4 linked regions of the Homo sapiens genome follow. The protein of the gene in region 4 interacts with the protein of the main gene of each other region in a pairwise test. Each region holds a gene or a part of one and is shown on either strand. Other genes may lie near its edges.

Region 1 (4,726 bases), on a different chromosome or scaffold from region 4:
TTCTCCTTGGAGCCTACTGATAAATTGACGCCAGGAGCCTGAGCTTCTTAGCAATAAATAAGCTCCAAATATAGAAGAGGGGGGAAAATATGATGAGCCTCTCTGACATTTGTCTTTAAAATAAAACTAGCTGCACGTCAAGTTTGAGCTTAATTTCTGGAAATAGGCGGAAGTCGCTCCGGATCATGCATGGAAGGCTAATTGAAAAGATCAGTCGGGGCGCTTGTGGCAGCCTTGTCACTTTGTGACAGTGCTCCGCTCCGGGAAATTGCATCGTCACGACAAACGGGACCGTGATAAAACGACCCTTTCCGTCCTTATTTGTAGATCACTCAGACGAGATTGAACTGCACTTGTTTCCCCTTCGAGGGGAGCCGCGTTTTCAGGGTAGCCGAAGGCTTGGGGCTGAGGGGGGGCCCTCACCAAGGCGCGGGTGGGGGCCGGAGCCTCAACTCGATGAGAAGTGACAGGCGTTTGGGGGATCTGGGCTCCGGCCGGGACCAGCGCAAGCAGGGACTTTGCGGGGACACCGCTTCTCCAACAGAGCAAGGCCTGGCCCACGTTTCCGGTTTCTCCTAACTTCCTTTTATTGCCTTCCTTTGCTTCGCAAGTTCCATCTACCCCTCCAGCTACAGAGCCCCACCTCTAGGCACAGGAAGCTTCCCGGAAAAAGAAAGGCTGTCCCAGAAAGAGACCGAGAGAGACTTTCCAAACTTCGGGCATAGCCACGGCAATTCCCAGTCTGCTAATGCCAAGGCGGGCGCGTAAGGCCGCCTAAATCTAGACCTCCCTCCTCACTCATTTCAAAAAATAACAACGTGCCAGCCACCTCCGCAGATACCGCCGGCTGGTGCTTGCCCAGGAGACGCCAGGGCCAGAGCGCCACTCCCAGCATCGAAATGGCAGAGAGAAAGCGCAGCTCCAAATTCCCCTTCAGAGGTTAAGCCTCAATCATTGTGTCCCTTCCCTAGGGACTGCTGGCGCTCTCGCCCACTGGCGATGATTATGCGCCTAGAACTCGACCGCGAAGCAACTAATAGGAAAACATATGGTGTCAATTTGGATGCTCCGCGCCTCGCGCACACCCGGGAACGAGCGGCACAAAGCCCTGCCGGCCGGCCCGCGACCCCGCGCCCCTCGGGGCCTGCCAGCCGGGCCGCAGCGACAAACGCTCAGGGCTGCGCGCCCTGGCTGGGGCCCGCCCGAGAGACAGCCTGCGGCTGGGGAGTCTGAGCTCCAAGGGGAGAGCCCAGCCGCCGAAGGCGAGCCTACCGGCCAAGCCCTGGGGTCCGGCAGGTTCTGCACAACTACTCCCGCAAAGCTCGCCACCTTTGTGCCCTTTCCTCAGCTACGCGCTTACCAGCCCCGGAAGCACCAGGGGGCGACCGGCGTTTCCAAAACAGATGGATAAGGTGCTGGGGACCCTCCTTAAGCCTGTGTGGTTCGGCCAGGGCAGGCTGCTGGAAGACCCGGGCCTTTCCACACTTTGAGTTCAGTTGAGCCCCGACGCCGTGTGCCTCAACCGTAACCTCAAACCGGGCCTGGTTTCGCTGGGCCTCCAGGCTCCCAGGTCGGAGCTCTAGACTAGCCCTGCCGCGTACCAGCACCCACCACGAACAGGAAGGTGGGTGGGACCCCACGGGGTCTGGGCAGAGGAAAGCAGGGAGGTACAAGGGCCATAAGTATCAAAAGCGCTCTGGGCCTGGGACTATCAGGACCCAAGCAATTGCAGTTGCCAGGGCAGGGATTTTCCAATTCCTGGGCACCTCCTTACCAGACCCAGTAAACCGTGCTCTCTCCCGCGCCCTGTAACAGCGAGTTTACCACCCCTACCCTGCTGCAGGCCTGGGGGCTCCTCTCCCCATCCCTTCTAGGCCCGTAGTGGGGTGAGGAGGGGAGGAGCTGCCCTGAGAGTGACTTGGGGAGAGAAGCCCCCAACCCCGCCGGGTTGGTGGAGACTTTCAGTCTTGGCTAAGCCCAAAGGGGCCTCCTTCTCGCTCAACTAGGAGAAGACTTCGCCCCGCCCTGATCAGCCCAGCCCCTCTCTCCGGGGTCAGAGCCCGGGCAGGGGCGAGAGGGGGTGTGAGTTACAGGATTTGGGGGGGATGGGGTTTCTCTACCGCAGCTTCGAAAACTCGGGCGGGCTGTTCTTAAGGGCCCAGCCCCTGCTTCTCCAGTATCGAGAAGAGCCAAGCAAACGCCCTCCCCTCCCGGGCTGCCGGGCGCGGAGCGGGGAGCAGCCGCCGCAGGTCCCCGGGCCTCAGTCGGTCGGCGGCCGGGCCAGCGCGGGCGTCGCGAGTCCCTGTGTCCTCCCCTGACCCTCGGGTCCGCGCACCCCGAGCCCGAAGTCCCAGAAAGACCAGAGGCACTTACTGTTCTGCATGCTGGCTCTGGCTGGGGGCCGCGGGATTCCACGGGGCTCGAATATGGGGCTCTGTTAGCAAGAAAATAGGAGTTAATCCTCGGGCAGCTGCATCAGGTAGGCCTGAACTCCCAACCGAGGTGGACCTGGGGCTAGGACAGGAGAATCTCCGTTCTTTAGGAATTGATCCACTCAACCTCTTGGGGCGATCTGAGGGTCACTCAGCTCTGCCCTGCAGTGCATACAAAATCTACCCTTTGGGGCTTGAAACAAAGTACTGGAATATCCCCAATCTGTTTCCCCTACATTCTTTAGCAGTTAACCCTTTAATCAGTAGAAGCGATGCCCCAATTTTGATTTATTTTCTTCTATCTGAACTATAGTGAAGAAGCATACTGAAATAGTTTGTTTTGACTGTTTGTGGGTTTTGAGCCCAAAGCAGCCACCACAGAACTTGCCTGAAATCTCGGATGTCTGTCCACTCTCACAATAAAAGGCCTCACACATCTGCGCGCCCCTAGTTAAAGTCTTCCCCCTAAGACAAAACAGAAGGAGAAAAAGGTATATCAAGCTGTGGTTCAACAGCATACGTCCATGGGCTCTCTGAGCCTCACTCTCAGGAAAAACACATGCATCTAGGGCTCAGTCAAACTGTCATCAAACTCTAAGTCCCAGCATTACACCCACATTTTCAGCGGCATCTGCCACAGAAGTCTCCATCCTTTAAAAGAGGCTGCTCTGGTCTGGCTTGGGAGAATTGGAAAATCTAGCAAGTTCGGATCCCACTTTGCAAAAATATAAAGAACCAGGAAAAGGGGAAGGGGGAAACAGGAGGAACAGTGGAGTAAGGAGTAGAGGCCAAGAGCTGAGGTTGAAGGGGTGTGAGGGGAGAGGAATACCTGAAGTTTGGAGACCAGGGGAAGGGAACCTTGGAACTTCCTGGTGCCGGAGAGCATAGGCTGGAGCAGTTTGGGAGGGCTGCAGGGCCACACTCCCTCCTTCCTTAAGGAACTTCACAAGACCCCCAGAACCCAACACTCTGCTTACCCTTTATCTTCTACTCCTCTCCCTACACCAAAAAAACTTCCCAATGGCCCCCTCTCCATCTACCTCCCAGCTTTCTGGGACTTTGAAAGGGGCAAGCCCAACTTTTTATCCCAAACCTCACTTATTGTGATTAACTTCTCTTTTGGCGTTTAGATCTTCACCCCTTTAACTGTACTGTGACACACCCTGTCTACCTCGCCTCACTGCTTTAAAAAGTACGAACAGGAGGGGGTGAGCGTGGTCGACAAAGCCGACAGACGGCAAACAATGGCTTCTATTCTCCAGCTTTCCTCGAACCCAAGGAGCAAAACCGAGTCTCCCTAACCAGCAACACAGCTTCCAACCAAATGTACCAACAACCCACCAACTCACAAAGGGAACAGAGGGACGCTTCTAGCTTCATAAGCCCTGACCCAGTGCAGGGGTCCCCGAGGCTGCTCCCGTACGAACACCTCCCTACCTTTCCCAAAGGAAAAAAAAAAAAAGTCTTTTGGGTGAGTGGAGAAAATAGAAAAGTAATTTCTTGTTGTAAATATCTGGAGGTAATTGTGTTACTGGTGTGAGTTGTTAGGGGCTGTAAAAAGATACAACGGCACCGTGGGGAGCTCAATTGGGAAGAGAGAGTTACAATAAAGAGCCCATTCAAGAGGTCTGCCCCCCAAAAAGAGGTAAAATAACAAAACAGTCACAGCATCATTTCTCTCTGTTTTTTTTTAAATGCATTATTTTTTCTGTTTTACCTATGGTGATTATTGATCTGCCTGCCTGCAAGCAAAGAATTTCAAGAAGCACATTTTACTCTACAAGGCCATTCCTGGTCTACTTTTTAACTACTTGGTAGACAGCTTAAATCCATAAAAATAAACCGAAAATGAGGACTTTTTCTCAGCATTGGGTAAATACTGGCCACAGCAGAGGGTTACTAGTTACCCTTATCTAGGTTGGCTCTCCAATGCTTCCTTCCTGTCTCTCAGTCCCGGCACCCATAGCCATGCCCTGGATAGGCAAAATCTCCAACTCTAATGCAAAATACCCCACCCCAACAAATGCAGGACCCTGAAGCTGCAAAGGAGTAGTAGGTGGGGAGATGGGGAATGGAATTCCCCTAGGAGGGGTAAAACTTCCAGAACTCCACTTTGTAACCCACGCTGTGCACAATCACAACAGAATGCTCCCATCCTGGCTTGTAACTTCTTGATACCATTTTTTTTTAAATTCAGTAGCTGAGCACAAAGAGGCCTCGTTGATTAGTTTTCGAAGCAGCTGGGAAGGTGGTAGTATTTCAAATTCCAGTTCTGCTCCATTCCCACTTCCCTC
Region 2 (4,726 bases), on a different chromosome or scaffold from region 4:
GTTGTAAGAACAGCACCAGGAGCCCCTCTCATCCTTTCCCAGGTTCAGCAGTTGTTCCCATTTGCCAGGTTGGCTTCTTCATCCTCTTTCTATCTGAATAGCTCTAAGCACATCGGCATTACTTCCCATACCCAGTACGTTCTTAACCCTGGGAACCTGCTGCCACTGGTCAGTGACAGATGAAGGCCACGGCCGAACAAATGAAGTAACTGTTGTTGGAAAACCTGGAAACCACTTGATCCAACTTATTATTATTTTTTTTAGACAGAGTCTCACTCTGTCGCCCAGGCTGGAGTGCAGTGGCATGATCTCGGCTTACCACAACCTCTGCCTCCCGGGTTCAAGCAATTCTCATGCCTCAGCCTCCCAAGTAGCTGGGATTACAGGCGCCCACCACCACACCTGACTAATTTTTTTGTGTTTTTAGTAGAGATGGGGTTTCACATGTTGGCCAGGCTGGTCTTGAACTCCTGGCCTTAAGCGATCTGCCCACCCTGGCCTCCCAAAGATCTGGGATTACAGACATGAGCCACCGTGCTCGGCCTGATTTTTCTTTAGACCTGTGTGCCCATGGCTGTCATTTGATCCTGTTCCTGTTCTCTGTGGGTAGAACTGTCCCTGGTTCATGTGATGGAAGTCAAGGTCTCTGTACTTCGTGGTGTTCTACAGACAGCACGTGGCCTGCCACCTGAGCCGGTCCAGGAGCCACTGCTCACTGGGCCTCAGCTGACTGTGCAGGGTCCCTGGGCATCGTGACGCCCAGCTGCAGGCTGCTAGGGGGCCACTGGGACTGGCTGTTTCCCCTGCCTGACACCCTCCTTTCTGTCTTGAAGTAGGTTCTTCGCAGACAGTGGCGCAGACCCCAAGGGAGAACCAGGCTCCAAACAGAGCCCTCCAATGGCTTCCAGCCCCATCCAGCCCAGGAAGGGAGGAGCTGACTGGTTGGGCCTCAAGGACGAGGACTTGGACCTGTTCCCTGCCTCACCCACCAGAGAGGCCCATCGGGAAAGTTCAGTGCCTGTCACGCCCTCAGTGCCTCCTCCTGCGAGCCAGCACTCCACGCCAGCTGGGCTGCCCCCCTCCAGGGCAAAGCCACCAACTGAAGGTGCAGGGTCCCCTGCCAAAGCCAGCCAGGCTTCCAAGCTGCGAGCCTCCAAGGAGGAGAAAGAGGACTGGCTGAGCCATGCCCTGTCTCGGAAGAAGTCCCAAGGCCTGGCCAGAGAGCAGCATGCTGGGACCTCTGAGGGCCTGCATTTGGCGGGGACAGCGGGCCATCCCCCTTCTGGCAGGTACTGACTTAGGCTGCTGTGGCTAGTAGGGGGAGGACTGGCTGGGGACTTGAGGAGCCCCTTTGCCCCTTCACCTGTTGCAGCCTCAGTCAGCAGTTGGGGAACAAGGCAGGGCGCCGTGGCCACAGAGGCCGCTTCTTGGCTTTGCTACTCTGCCTTTTAGGCACTGCAGAGAGAGCCTCTGGCTCCCAGGCTTGCCCCAGGGACATACCCAAGAAGGAGGGCTGTTGACATTCATGCCCTGACCGCCATGGGGACAGGTGCTAACTTGATCGAGGAGAAGACAGAGGGTCCCTGAGGTGGCAGACACACCGCTGCCCTGTCACAGCGCCCTCAGGCTGGAAGCCCCGGCATCCAAACAGCCGGTGCTTCTGCCGACTCCACTGAAGCGAGTATGGCGTGTGTGAGCTGAGATGTCCCTGTGCTCTTTGAGAGTGTTAGAGGAGACATAGTGGCCGAGAGGCGCCTCTTGGAGAAGCCCTTATCCGTGGGGCAGGATAGCGAGTGACCTCTGAAGGCAGGAAGGCACAAGGGGCCAGCAGGCTGGGGGAGTCCAGAGGAAGTGGTGAGATGTGCTGTGGCCAGAGCCCAGGGGAGTGAACTGGGCAATTTGTGACAGCCCAGGGACATCACCCTGTCCTGGGGTTGATGACAGGAGGGCAGTTTTGACTTTGACCTGAGGCCGAGGGGAAAGCTCAGGCCAAAACAGAAAAGAGCCTGTCTCTTCACTGACCCGTGAGCCGAGAAAGAGGTGGAAATAATGGGAAAGGGAGCCAGCCAGATTTGGTAGACTGAGCAGAATCCTAATCTAGAGCTGAGCCAAGTTAAGTGGACTGGAACAGGGCTCTGAACTTGAACTTGACTCCAGTGTCTATAACATTTCCGTTGTCACTGCTTGGACAGTGTCCATTCACTGCACCACTGTGGACATTGAGGCAGGAAGGGGGTACTGGAAGGGAAGAGATGCCCAGAAATCCCAGGAGCTCAGACGTGGGAGGAGAATGCCCCAAGACGGGATGGTGGAAGCAGGAGGAAGGGGGGCCACGAGCTTCACGTGTGAAGCCCGTCCTGGGCCCTGTCTTCATCCAGCCTGACCTGGGCCTTCTGTCACCTTCACCTTGAACGCTGCCTTTCCTCAGCCAACCTCTCACCAGCACACAAGGGCTTGAGCACGCAGCTGCTGGAGGGAGTTCTGGAACAACTGCACGAGAAAGACCGTGTGTCAGGCCTGGTGTCTCGGGGTAGGCCTGGGCTGCGGGCTGAGTGGGAATGAGAGCATGGTGGGCAGCACAGGCCTCTGTCCTGAGAGAGGGACACAGAGGCTGTTCACCCTGCCCCTGCCCCGTCCCCGTGTCCCACACAGAGGCTGCCCACCCTGCTCCGTCCCTGTGCCCTACACAGAGGCTGCCCACCCTGCCCCATCCCCGTGTCCCACCTAGAGGCTGCCCACCCTGCCCCGTCCCCGTGTCCCAGCAGAGGCTGCCCACCCTGCCCCATCCCCGTGTCCCACGTAGAGGCTGCCCACCCTGCCCCGTCCCCATGTCCCACCTAGAGGCTGCCCACCCTGCCCCGTCCCCGTGTCCCACACAGAGGCTGCTCACCATGCCCCATCCCTGTGTCCTCAGGTCCCCTGTGACTCAGAACCATGCCGCCTCAGCACTCCCTACAGGTTCCCCAAAGAGGGGAACAGCCCCTGGAGACCTCTCAGCCACTGGTTTGTTTTTTGTTTGCTGCTTCATTTGGGAGTTTAACCCTGGGTGAGGAAGAGGTGCTTTGAGCTTCCTTTGGGGTCCCTGGGACATGAGTTACACCAGCCCCTCCTGGACACTCGCAGGCCCAGTGCCCTGGGCCTCCTGTTCATTTCTCTGTTGTTGATGTTTCAGAGCCTGCCACGTGTTTCCCGAGCACCCAGAAACCCACAGAGCCTTCCGTGCCCGTCCAGGTAGGGGTGTGGGCAGACAGGTCTAGCTCAGGGCCTAGGGAGCAATTCTCCATGCCCAGGGGCAATACCCACAGTTTGACCTGACGACCTGCCAGGAAAAATGTGTCAAACATACCAAATGTGACGTCAGCCAGCTCCCCGGGCACCCCCCACTAGAACTTGCCTGAATTTCTAGCCTCGCTGCTCCTGGGCAGAGCTGGGTGTTAATTTGCCTACATCAGTGGGGAGTTTAAGGAGGCAGCCAGGCCGGGGAGCTGGGATGCTGCAGTCAGAAAGCAGGGCCGCAGGGTCCTGTTCTGTCAAGAAAGCCTCCTCCACCCTTGCCATCCTCCCACCACACCTCTGCCTCTGTTTCCCATGTGTGGCAGTCACCTGTGACACCTGGGCCTGGGAGGTGTGCCCCCCCCCCCCCCAGGAGTGTGTCCCTGGGAGATGGTGGGTAGGGGACAGCTCGTGGGAACCAGATTAGTGTCAACATGTGGGCTTCAGGCCTGACAGGAAAAGCCAGCATCAGCTTTTGTCATAGCGAAGACTCTGCTGGGGTTCAGCCATTTGTCTGGGAAGCCGGAGACCATGCTGGGGAGGAAGCTGTTCCGGAGGGTGGAGGGAGACATGCTCCTGACCAGATCTGCAAGGGGAGGTACACTGGGGACTGCTTAGCCGCAGTGACTGTTACTTTCCAAGGCCTTGGCCCCATCTGCAGCCACAGATCAGATGCAGGGAGGTCCAGTGAGCAGTGGGCCAGGAGGTAGCTGATCTCAGCTGGGCCCCTGTCCCCTCCCTAACTAGAAACACCTCTCTTCCTCTCCTCCAGCCCCTGCTCCCAGAGTCCCTGGCCCGGAGCCTGCTGCCGAGCACAGAATACCAGAAGCAGCTCCTGGCAGCACAGGTGCAACTTCAGTGCAGCCCCGCTGAGCTCCAGGCCGAGCTGCTGCATAGCCAGGCCCGGCTGGCAGAGCTGGAGGCCCAGGTGAGGGGCAGCGGGGCCGTTGGTGCTGGTGGCAGGGTTGCGACAGGAGGGGACACTGAGAGTGGCTGGAAGCTTCCCCAGGAGGGAGGAAGGGCTGTTGGCACAGGGCAGCGTGGAGTACAGCCACCTCCCCTCCCTGGTTGCTGGCCCTCCTGCTGTCTCCCAGGTGCGGAAGCTGGAGCTAGAACGGGCCCAGCATGAGCTGCTGCTGGGGAGTCTGCAGCAGCAGCACCAGGCAGACCTGGAGCTCATCGAGAGTGCACACAGGTACCCTGGCGCTGGCCCCAGCTCTGCCTTGGATCTCACACTGACCCCAAAGGCCACCCAGTGTGCCTGGAGAGGCCTTTAGGCGGCAGCCCTCTGCCTTCCTTGCGCCATGGCTGGGTGTTCTGTTGGCAGAAGCCGCATCAAGGTGCTAGAAACATCGTACCAGCAACGGGAGGAGCGGCTCCGGAGAGAGAACGAAGAGCTGTCAGCTCGGTATCTGTCGCAGTGCCAGGAGGCCGAACAGGCCCGTGCTGAGCT
Region 3 (5,525 bases), on a different chromosome or scaffold from region 4:
ACCAAGCTGGGAGCACGAGATGGGACAAGGGTAAGTTAAAATACCACAAAGCTCCCTGTTCTTACGGAGATTCCGCTGATCTCTCTCTTGCTCTTTCTTTCTTTTTTTTTTTTTTTTCAGTCTTGCTCTGTCGCTCAAGCTGGAGTGCAGTGGTGTGATCTCAGCTCAATGCAACCTCGGCTTCCCAGGTTCAAATCATTGAGTGAGCCCAGGAGGTCAAGACCAACCTGGGAAACATAGCAAAAGGCAGGGTAGTGCATGCCTGTAGTCCCAAGGCCGAGGCGGGAGAATCACTTGAGTCCCGGAGGTAGAGACCAGCCTGGACAACATAGCGAAACTGTCTCTAGTAGAAAAATTAAAAATATTAGTGGGGGCGGGGTGGTGTGAACCTGTAGTCCCGAGGCCAAGGCAGGACGATTGCTTGAGCCTAGGAGGTTGAGGCCAGCCTGGCCAACATAGTGAAACCCCATTTCTACTAACAACAAGAACAACAAAAAAATAGCGTGGGTGGGGTGGCTCACTCCTGTAGTTTTGAGGCCAAGGTGGGAGGATTGCTTGAGCCCAGGAGGTTGATACCAGCCTGGCCAACAAAGCGATAGCCTGCCTCTCCTAAAATAAATAAATAAATAAATAAATAAATAAATGAAAATAAAAATGAGCAGGGCAGAATGGCACACGCCTATAGTCCTGAGGCCAAGATGAAAGCATCATCTGAGCCTAAGAGATTGAGGCCAGCCTGGGCAACATATCGAAACCTGGTTTCTACTAAAACGAAACAAAACAAAACAAAAAATAGCTTGGGCAGGGTGGTGCGTGGCTGCGGTCCTGAGGCAGGAGGATCCCTTGAGCCCAGGAGCTTGATGCCGGCCTGGCCAACATAGGGAAACATGGTTTCTACTAAAAAAAAAAAAAAAAAAAAAAAAAAAATCGTAGGCAGGGTAGTGCATGCCTGTAGTCTCGAGGCCATGGTGGAAGAATGCCTTGAGCCCAGGACGATGAGACCAACCTGGCCAATGAGACCAGCCTGGCCAACATAGCAAAACCTGGTTTCTACTTAAAAAAAAAAAAAAAAAAAAAAGCGTAGGCAGGGTGGTGAATGCCTGTAGTCCCGAGGCCGAGGTGGGAGGATCGCTTGAGCCCAGGACGTCAAGACCAGCCTGGCCAACACAGCAAAACCTTCTCTATTAAAAAATCAAAAAATAAAAAATATTAGTGGGGGTGGGGTGGTTTGCGCCTGTAGTCCCGAGACAGAGGCGGGAGGATTGGCCAAGGCAGATGTAACCAATACCACAATCACATCCCATAAGTAAATACATTTTCCTCTCTCCAGGGCTACAGGTAAAGGATGGTAATTCTGCACACCACACTTAGATTCCCTTTCAAAAATGTAAGCAGAGGTTGGAGGGCCTTGGACTGTTTTTTCAGTGGCAACAGATATAGAAGCCACTGAAGAATGAACTCCACGACTAATTATAGCAAACCTCCGCAAATGTGCTAGTTTGGAAAACATTGTGGCTTTCAAGTAGAAAAATCACAGATTGACTATTTTTTTCTTCCCACAGTTCAGACTAGAATCCAGATTTTTAACCCAAGATCCAGGAACAGTCTTCAGAGAGATCAAAATCTGACGGCGCCTGAGGACCACCCACTTTTTCGCAGTGGCGACAAGGTGTGGCTGGAGGAGGAGACATTATTCTGCAATGTCGCTGCCCAAGGATGATGGACCAATCAGGGCAGTTAGTGAACTCCATCTGGCCAATTAGAAGTCAGAACAGTAGGCGGAACAAGCGAAGCGGATGTGGCTTCTATCAGTCCCGGCTCCAGGGACACAACCTTCTCAAAGTGGGGGTGGAGACTCTAATTTTCCCGCCTAAAGCATCCCCTGGGATTCGCTACTTTAAGTTCAGAGTACGCATGCTCTGATTTTCTCTCTCTTTCGATTCTTCCATACTCAAGAGTACGCACGGTCTGATTTTCTCTTTGGATTCTTCCAAAATCAGAGTAAGAATACACTGATTTTCTTTTTCCATTCTTCCTACCCCTCCCCTCCTCCGTGGTGCATTTGCTATCTAGTTTTAATAAGGAGTGTATATGAGGCAGGCCGCCATCTTAAATCTTTCCTGTCAGTTTCTAACCGCCATCTCAAATCTTTCCTGTCAGTTTCTAACTTTTTCAGGTATGGGATTTTTCCTAGGAACTCTGTAGTAACTTAAGAAATTTGGGCCTGGGGTGGTGGCTTACACTTGTAATCCCTGCACTTTTGGAAGCCACAGCTGGTGGATTGCCTGAACCCAAGAGGCGGAGGTTGCAGTGAGCCATGATCACGCCAGTGCACTCCCGACTGGGCAACAGAGCGAGACCCTGTCTGAAAAAAAAAATCACTCAAATCTTTCCTGCTGGGCTCAAGTGATCTTCTCACCTAGGCCTTGGGACTACAGGCGCGCACCACCCCGCTTCTGCTAAATTTTGTTTGTTTGTTTTTTTTAGTAGAGATGGTTTTGCTACGTTTGTGAGCCTGGTCTCAAGCTCCTGGGCTAAGGCGATCCGCCCACCTTGGCCTTCCAAAGTGCTGGGATGGTACAGGCCTGCTCCACCAACCCCAGCTAACTTTTTGTTTATTTTGTAGACGGGGGTTTTGCTGTGTTTCCCAGCCGGGTCTCGACCTCCTGGGCTCAAGTGACCTGCACGCCTCGGCCTCCCAAAGTGCTGGGATTACAGGCCTGAGCCACTGCGCCTGGCTGATTGCTGCAACTTGAAATGCCCCACATTCTCTCTAAGTGATGGCGGGCTCTTGTAGTCTCAGAAATTCTAGCTCTCTTCGTTCTAATAACTTACAAATCACCCAGTAATAGCCTCTGAACACATTCATATTAGCGATGCTCATTTCTCTTCAGCAGAACAGAACCCCCCATCCCTCTGCCTGATCAGATCCATCACCAAAGAGACCACGTTATCTCTGGGACTAACTTCCCTTCCTTTATTTATTGAGCGGGGGTGTCAGCATGCCCCACTGAATAAAATTACACAGTCATGTCCCTGCCTCCCCAACAAGGGTCCATACATCTTTCAGGGGAAGCCTAGCTCCAGGGAAATTACTAACAACATTAGCCAACCCCCTCCCAAAGACTCAAGGCTGCTTTGCCCATAGGAAACCTGTCATCCCCTATCAATACTTCTCCCAGAGACCCCTGGTTCCTGGTTTTCGTCTGATTTCTCCCCATATCCTTACTCAGGGACAGATAAGCCCCGGATGGAGAAATGCAGCACCTGATTCCAGGTGACTGAGTGGCCGGCCTTCACTGATTTCTCCCTCCACAAGACCAAAGGTCCTGCGGCTGGAAAGTCTCAATCTGTTTCTCTTGCAGGTCAGACTACTCCCTGTGCCATGAACGGAGATGACACCTTTGCAAGGAGACCCACGGTTGGTGCTCAAATACCAGAGAAGATACAAAAGGTGAGGTGACCTAGAGGGAGCAGAGTAGTGACCCAGGGGACAGTGTGGGGTGACCCGGTTTCTGAGGAGGGGAGGACAGAGATACTGGAGACAAGGAGCAGGGTCTCAGGGGAGATCTGGACCCTTGGGAGCCTCCCACCCTCACTCTGTCATCACCTAGCATCCCTGGAGACAAGTCTGTGACCTTGCACTACATTTGGTGACTCTCAGTCCATTCTGGAAGGTGGGAGGAGAGCCAGCCAGCAGCATTAAAGCCCGACAGTGTGGCAGGGGTGAAGCTAGGAAGGTCCCTCATGTTCTGTCAGTTAGCCGTGGCATCAACCAGGAAGGATTATCCCCACTTCCCAGATCCAGCACACAGGAAGCGACTCCAGCTGAATGGCAGACATGCCTAGCTGAGTCCCTGCCATAATTCCTTTTTTTTTTTTTTGTAGGCCTTCGATGATATTGCCAAATACTTCTCTAAGGAAGAGTGGGAAAAGATGAAAGTCTCGGAGAAAATCGTCTATGTGTATATGAAGAGAAAGTATGAGGCCATGACTAAACTAGGTAACAGAAAGTTCTAGGTACAGACAAGTCTGGGGACACATGAGCATCCCTTTTCCTGCTTTGGCTATTTCTTAGGCTGCAGAAAGTACCTCACATTTTCCTTTTGTGTAGGGAAAAATCGCAAGGCAGCTTCTGGGTGTTCTGCTCTTCTATATCCTGTCAGGGCTGAGGGCAGTGACTGGCCACAGTGGAGCTCATACCTGGATCCTGCACGTTTCTCTCTCTTAGGCTTCTGTTCTGATGAGCCCAACTGTCTCTGTGGCATCCCGGCAACCATCCTACCCCCACCCCACACACACCCACTCTACCTTCTCTCGGCTTGTCTCTTTCTTTTTTTTTTTTTTTTGTTTGAGTCAGTCTGAATCTGTCACCTAGGCTAGAGTGCAGTAGTGCAATCATAGCTTACTGCAGCCTTGAATTCCTGGCCTCAAGCAATCCTCCAGCCTTAGCCTCCCAAAGTGTTGGTACTACAGACATGAGCCACCGTACCAGGCCCAAGCTTGTCTCTTAAGGAATAAACATTTTGCTTCTTTCTAGGTTTCAAGGCCATCCTCCCATCTTTCATGCGTAATAAACGGGTCACAGACTTCCAGGGGAATGATTTTGATAATGACCCTAACCGTGGGAATCAGGGTGAGTAGATGGGAAGGGGCTGGAAAGGGTCTCCTCAAGCCCAATTGCTTTTCAGCTCAGCTACCTGGGAAAGAGCCTCAGGCATTTGTTCCCTCATACACATCGGGGCAGAGTGAAAAAAAAAATTGCATGCAGAAAGTTAACTACAGAGGTCATTCATATAAAATTTTAAAACATGCAAAAGAAGAATATATATTTTTATGGATAATAAGTAAATGGTAAATGTATACAAACATGAATGTGAATAAAAAGCCATCAAACTAAGGTGACTGGCTGTAAGTGGAGGAGGGAGGGAGGGCAGGGATTGCTGAGTGCTGCACAGACAGCTTCAGCTGTGACTTGTTGATAGTGTGTTTTGTTTGTTTTTGTTTTTGAGATGGAGTTTCACTCTTCTCGGCCAGGGTGGAGTGCAATAAGGCAATCTCAGCTCACTCCAACTTTCACCTCCTGGGTTCAAGTGATTCTTCTGCCTCAGCCTCCCGAGTAGCTGGGGTTACACGCACGTGCCCCCACACTCAGCTCATTTTTTAATTTATGGTAGAGACGGGGTTTCACCATGTTGGCCAGGCTGGTCTCAAACTTCCTGACCTCAGGTGATCCACCCGCCTCAGCCTTCCAAACTGCTGGGATTACAAGTGTGAGCTACCACGCCCGGCCTGTTTGCAGTTTTTCTAATATTCTGAATAAATAAATCAGACCTAACTTAGCTGTGGGGTAATGTTGAGATCCGACTGGACTCAATATTATTCCCCATACTTTTCTGTGTGTTTGAAATATTTCTTTTTTAAATGACATGTTGTTCTTCCTAAGCACTGTTAATGTATCAAAGGACAGTTAAGAAAATGTTACAAGTGAAAAAAAAAAAAAAGAAAGAAAGTGTTAAAACTGT
Region 4 (4,726 bases):
CAAGATGAAATGGAAAAAAACTACAAATTACAAGTTCTGAGAAGGAAGAGTAGGATCTATGAGACAGACTAACAAAGAGGAAAATCAAGATTTAGATTGAAGACCCACGTAGGTGTATCTAAGAAAGTGATATTTTTGCTTTGTCTTACTGGATAAGTAAGACTTTGTCAGGTAGAAGCATGGGTGGAAAGGCATTCCAAACAAATACCTTCAGCAGAAAAAACTTGACACGCTTGAGAATCTGAATGCCTAGCTAAAAGGTGAGGAAGGAGGTAGAGAGGTCAGTGATGCAGGGCTTTATAGACCACAGCAAGTATAGAAGAGGTTTCCAGTGCAGACATAAAGACTGTAGGTTCAAATTCTGGCTCTGCTACATGTATTAAATTACTTATCTCTGTTTCCATTTGTATCAGTAAAAAAAGGAATATTAATAAGACTTCTCATGCAAGTTGTGACATTTAGTGAGTTAACATATAGCATTTATTATTTTTAAAGACTGTTTTCTGAATGCAAGGACATGCTATTGCAGGTTTTTAAGTGACATTGTCTACTTCCATCTTTTTAAAAAGATCATGTCCATTGCTTGGGAAAGCCTTGATGGTAATTAACAGGTTTCCAAGGTATTTTGAATGCTAAGCAGCTTTTGAACTTGCGGGTACAATCCAAACATGTCCATCTGAGAGAAAAATCAAAATCAGGTATAAATTTGCCCCCTAAAAATTAAATGATAGAAGACTAGAAAGTGAGGAGTGATTAGGAAATTAAATCAGGATGCTCATAATTTTCATAATGGTGAGACTTTTAAAACTTAATCATTGATTCTTTTTTTTTCTAGGTAATTTTTCTTTTTTTTTTTTTTAATATTTTTTTTATTATACTTTAAGTTTTAGGGTACATGGCACATTGTGCAGGTTAGTTACATATGTATACATGTGCCATGCTGGTGCGCTGCACCCACTAACTCGTCATCTAGCATTAGGTATATCTCCCAATGCTATCCCTCCCCCCTCCCCCCACCCCACCACAGTCCCCAGAGTGTGATGTTCCCCTTCCTGTGTCCATGTGATCTCATTGTTCAATTCCCACCTATGAGTGAGACTATGCGGTGTTTGGTTTTTTGTTCTTGCGATAGTTTACTGAGAATGATGATTTCCAATTTCATCCATGTCCCTACAAAGGACATGAACTCATCCTTTTTTATGGCTGCATAGTATCCCATGGTGTATATGTGCCACATTTTCTTAATCCAGTCTATCATTGTTGGACATTTGGGTTGGTTCCAAGTCTTTGCTATTGTGAATAGTGCCACAATAAACATACGTGTGCATGTGTCTTTATAGCAGCATGATTTATAGTCCTTTGGGTATATACCCAGTAATGGGATGGCTGGGTCAAATGGTATTTCTAGTTCTAGATCCCTGAGGAATCGCCACACTGTCTTCCACAATGGTTGAACTAGTTTACAGTCCCACCAACAGTGTAAAAGTGTTCCTATTTCTCCACATCCTCTCCAGCACCTGTTTCCTAACTTTTTAATGATTGCCATTCTAACTGGTGTGAGATGGTATCTCATTGTGGTTTTGATTTGCATTTCTCTGATGGCCAGTGATGATGAGCATTTTTTCATGTGTTTTTTGGCTGCATAAATGTCTTCTTTTGAGAAGTGTCTGTTCATGTCCTTCGCCCACTTTTTGATGGGGTTGTTTGTTTTTTTCTTGTAAATTTGTTTGAGTTCATTGTAGATTCTGGATATTAGCCCTTTGTCAGATGAGTAGGTTGTGAAAATTTTATCCCATTTTGTAGGTTGCCTGTTCACTCTGATGGTAGTTTCTTTTGCTGTGCAGAAGCTCTTTAATTAGGTATTGTTGGGACGTATTTCAAAATAATAAGAGCTATCTATGACAAACCCACAGCCAATATCATACTGAATGGGCAAAAACTGGAAGCATTCCCTTTGAAAACTGGCACAAGACAGGGATGCCCTCTCTCACCACTCCTATTCAACATAGTGTTGGAAGTTCTGGCCAGGGCAATTAGGCAGAAGAAGGAAATAAAGGGTATTCAATTAGGAAAAGAGGAAGTCAAATTGTCCCTGTTTGCAGACGACATGATTGTATATCTAGAAAACCCCATTGTCTCAGCCCAAAACCTCCTTAAGCTGATAAGCAACTTCAGCAAAGTCTCAGGATACAAAATCAATGTACAAAAATCACAAGCATTCTTATACACCAATAACAGACAAACAGAGAGCCAAATCATGAGTGAACTCCCATTCACAATTGCTTCAAAGAGAATAAAATACCTAGGAATCCAACTTACAAGGGATGTGAAGGACCTCTTCAAGGAGAACTACAAACCACTGCTCAATGAAATAAAAGAGGATACAAACAAATGGAAGAACATTCCATGCTCATGGGTAGGAATAATCAATATCGTGAAAATGGCCATACTGCCCAAGGTAATTTACAGATTCAATGCCATCCCCATCAAGCTACCAATGACTTTCTTCACAGAATTGGAAAAAACTACTTTAAAGTTCGTATGGAACCAAAAAAGAGTCTGCATCGCCAAGTCAATCCTAAGCCAAAAGAACAAAGCTGGAGGCATCACACTACCTGACTTCAAACTATACTACAAGGCTACAGTAACCAAAACAGCATGGTACTGGTACCAAAACAGAGATATAGATCAATGGAACAGAACAGAGCCCTCAGAAATAACACCGCATAGATCTGATCTTTGACAAACCTGAGAAAAACAGGCAATGGGGAAAGGATTCCCTATTTAATAAATGGTGCTGGGAAAACTGGCTAGCCATATGTAGAAAGCTGAAACTGGATCCCTTCCTTACACCTTATACAAAAATCAATTCAAGATGGATTAAAGACTTAAACGGTAGACCTAAAACCATAAAAACCCTAGAAGAAAACCTAGGCATCACCATTCAGGACATAGGCATGGGCAAGGACTTCATGTCTAAAACACCAAAAGCAATGGCAACAAAAGACAAAATTGACAAATGGGATCTAATCATTGATTCTTAATATGTAATTGGTTACGGTATACTGGTTACTGCTTTAGGCATGATAGGCAAATGCTGAATTCCCAAACGAAGCTGTCTCACTGAGTTTTAAATTAGGCCATATATGTAAAGTTAAAATATAAGGGAATGGAGTAGGCTAAGATTTTTTAAACAGTTTACAAAAAGCATTGCCATTAAAGAAACAATGATAAATTGAACTTTATTTAAATTGAGAACTTACCTTCATCAAAAGACAGCATTAAGAGTCAGGCATGGTGGCATATGCCCATAGTCCGAGCTACTCAGCAGGCTGAGGCAGGAGGACTGTTTGAGCCCAGGAGTTCAAGGTCAGCCTGGAAAACATAGTGAGAACTTGTCTCAACCAATCAATAATATACACATACATAAGACAATACGAAGAGAATGAAACATCACTGCATCCATATTACAATAACTAAAGTTAAAAGCATTTGACAGTGCCATTCTGAGGGAGGATATAAAGCAATTGAAACTCATATTTTGCTGATGGGAGTACAAATTGGTACAACTAATTTGGAAGACTATTAGCAGCATCTAAATCTAAATCAGCATCTATTATCATTGTACTAAATCTGAAAATAATGCATACCCTTTGGAGAAATTCTACTTTACACATGAATACCTAGGTCCATCAAAAGACATGTACAGGAATATCCATAGCAACAACTGTGGACAGTTAAATAAGTTACGGCATATGTATATAACAGAATATTTTATAGCAATAAAAAGCAATGAATTATATGCAACAGCAAGGTGAACTTCACTTACCAATTGTTGAGGAAAATAAGCCAGACAAAAAGTTTAAAAATAGGCAATTTACATTTTGATAAAGGTTGGATTAGTACTTACCTTTTGGGGAGGGGAAAAAATGGGAGGGAACACTGGGGGGTCTTCTAGATTTCTGCATTTGTTCTGTATTTTGTTCTTCACATTTTTTCAAGCTGAATACTTTGTATATATGCACTTTGTGTAATTTAAAACGTAATTAACAATTAAAATATAACTAATGTTTTAAATATAAAGAACATAAACAAGTACCTTTTTTAAGGTTTAGCTTTTAGTTTGTTTCTTCTTTTCTTTCTTTCTTTCTTGCATCTTTCATGGAGATAAAGAGGGTGAGCTGAAGAAAATTGGAACTTGGAACAGACAAGAATGCAGAAAGTGAGAGGACACAGAAAAAATAGTAAAATGGGCAAGAGACAGCCTTTAAGCATATGGGTTGGTAGAAAAATCTGAGAAGAAATGAAGTAGGGATAGTTAGATTAATAACAATGTGCAAACCATGAAAAAAGGTATTTTTTGCACTCTACAAATGTGGCACTACACACTATTCTAATTTTCTGTGTAGTAACCAGTTGACCAGCGCTTAGTAACAGTCCGTATTCTTAGGGGTTTGAATCCTGAAGTGGTTTCATTTGGTATGCTGACTGTCCTTGTTTCATATCCATCCTAGTTCTATGGGACGCCTTCTCCAAAATAAGCATACTGTAAAGGCTTATAGATAACTTAAACTAAAAGAGGAAATTTATAATTACTTTGAACAGTTTTAAAGAAAGTATCAGGCTAGATATTAGGACAATGCCAAAGTTCACTAACTAGCTTTTTGCAGGTTTAATAATGATATTGCTTTCCTTCCCATTATCAATCTATATTATATAGTTAAGT

The links. The genes of interacting proteins can lie anywhere in the genome.
Region 1: the proteins of MIPOL1 (region 4) and PAX6 interact in binary tests that used the Homo sapiens proteins (3 or more experiments, as listed by UniProt).
Region 2: the proteins of MIPOL1 (region 4) and FBF1 interact in binary tests that used the Homo sapiens proteins (3 or more experiments, as listed by UniProt).
Region 3: the proteins of MIPOL1 (region 4) and SSX3 interact in binary tests that used the Homo sapiens proteins (3 or more experiments, as listed by UniProt).

Annotation. Positions count from the first base shown.
Region 1 is NC_000011.10:31,804,029-31,808,754, forward strand, and holds part of PAX6 (paired box protein Pax-6), read right to left. Parts: intron 3,595-4,726; exon of another isoform or gene 3,262-3,594; intron 2,898-3,261; 5' UTR 2,870-2,897; coding exon of another isoform or gene 2,821-2,869; intron 2,435-2,820; coding exon of another isoform or gene 2,384-2,434; coding exon 2,374-2,383; intron 1,974-2,373; exon of another isoform or gene 1,361-1,973; intron 1,014-1,360; exon of another isoform or gene 830-1,013; intron 32-829; exon of another isoform or gene 1-31. UniProt on the Homo sapiens protein: Transcription factor with important functions in the development of the eye, nose, central nervous system and pancreas. Required for the differentiation of pancreatic islet alpha cells.
Region 2 is NC_000017.11:75,919,749-75,924,474, reverse strand, and holds part of FBF1 (fas-binding factor 1), read left to right. Parts: intron 1-833; coding exon 834-1,289; intron 1,290-2,428; coding exon 2,429-2,530; intron 2,531-2,914; coding exon 2,915-3,003; intron 3,004-3,172; coding exon 3,173-3,231; intron 3,232-4,045; coding exon 4,046-4,201; intron 4,202-4,367; coding exon 4,368-4,468; intron 4,469-4,600; coding exon 4,601-4,726. UniProt on the Homo sapiens protein: Keratin-binding protein required for epithelial cell polarization. Involved in apical junction complex (AJC) assembly via its interaction with PARD3. Required for ciliogenesis.
Region 3 is NC_000023.11:48,353,110-48,358,634, reverse strand, and holds the start of SSX3 (protein SSX3), read left to right. Parts: upstream 1-1,931; 5' UTR 1,932-2,001; intron 2,002-3,365; 5' UTR 3,366-3,385; coding exon 3,386-3,454; intron 3,455-3,888; coding exon 3,889-4,003; intron 4,004-4,540; coding exon 4,541-4,636; intron 4,637-5,525. UniProt on the Homo sapiens protein: Could act as a modulator of transcription.
Region 4 is NC_000014.9:37,494,273-37,498,998, forward strand, and holds part of MIPOL1 (mirror-image polydactyly gene 1 protein), read left to right. Parts: intron 1-4,726.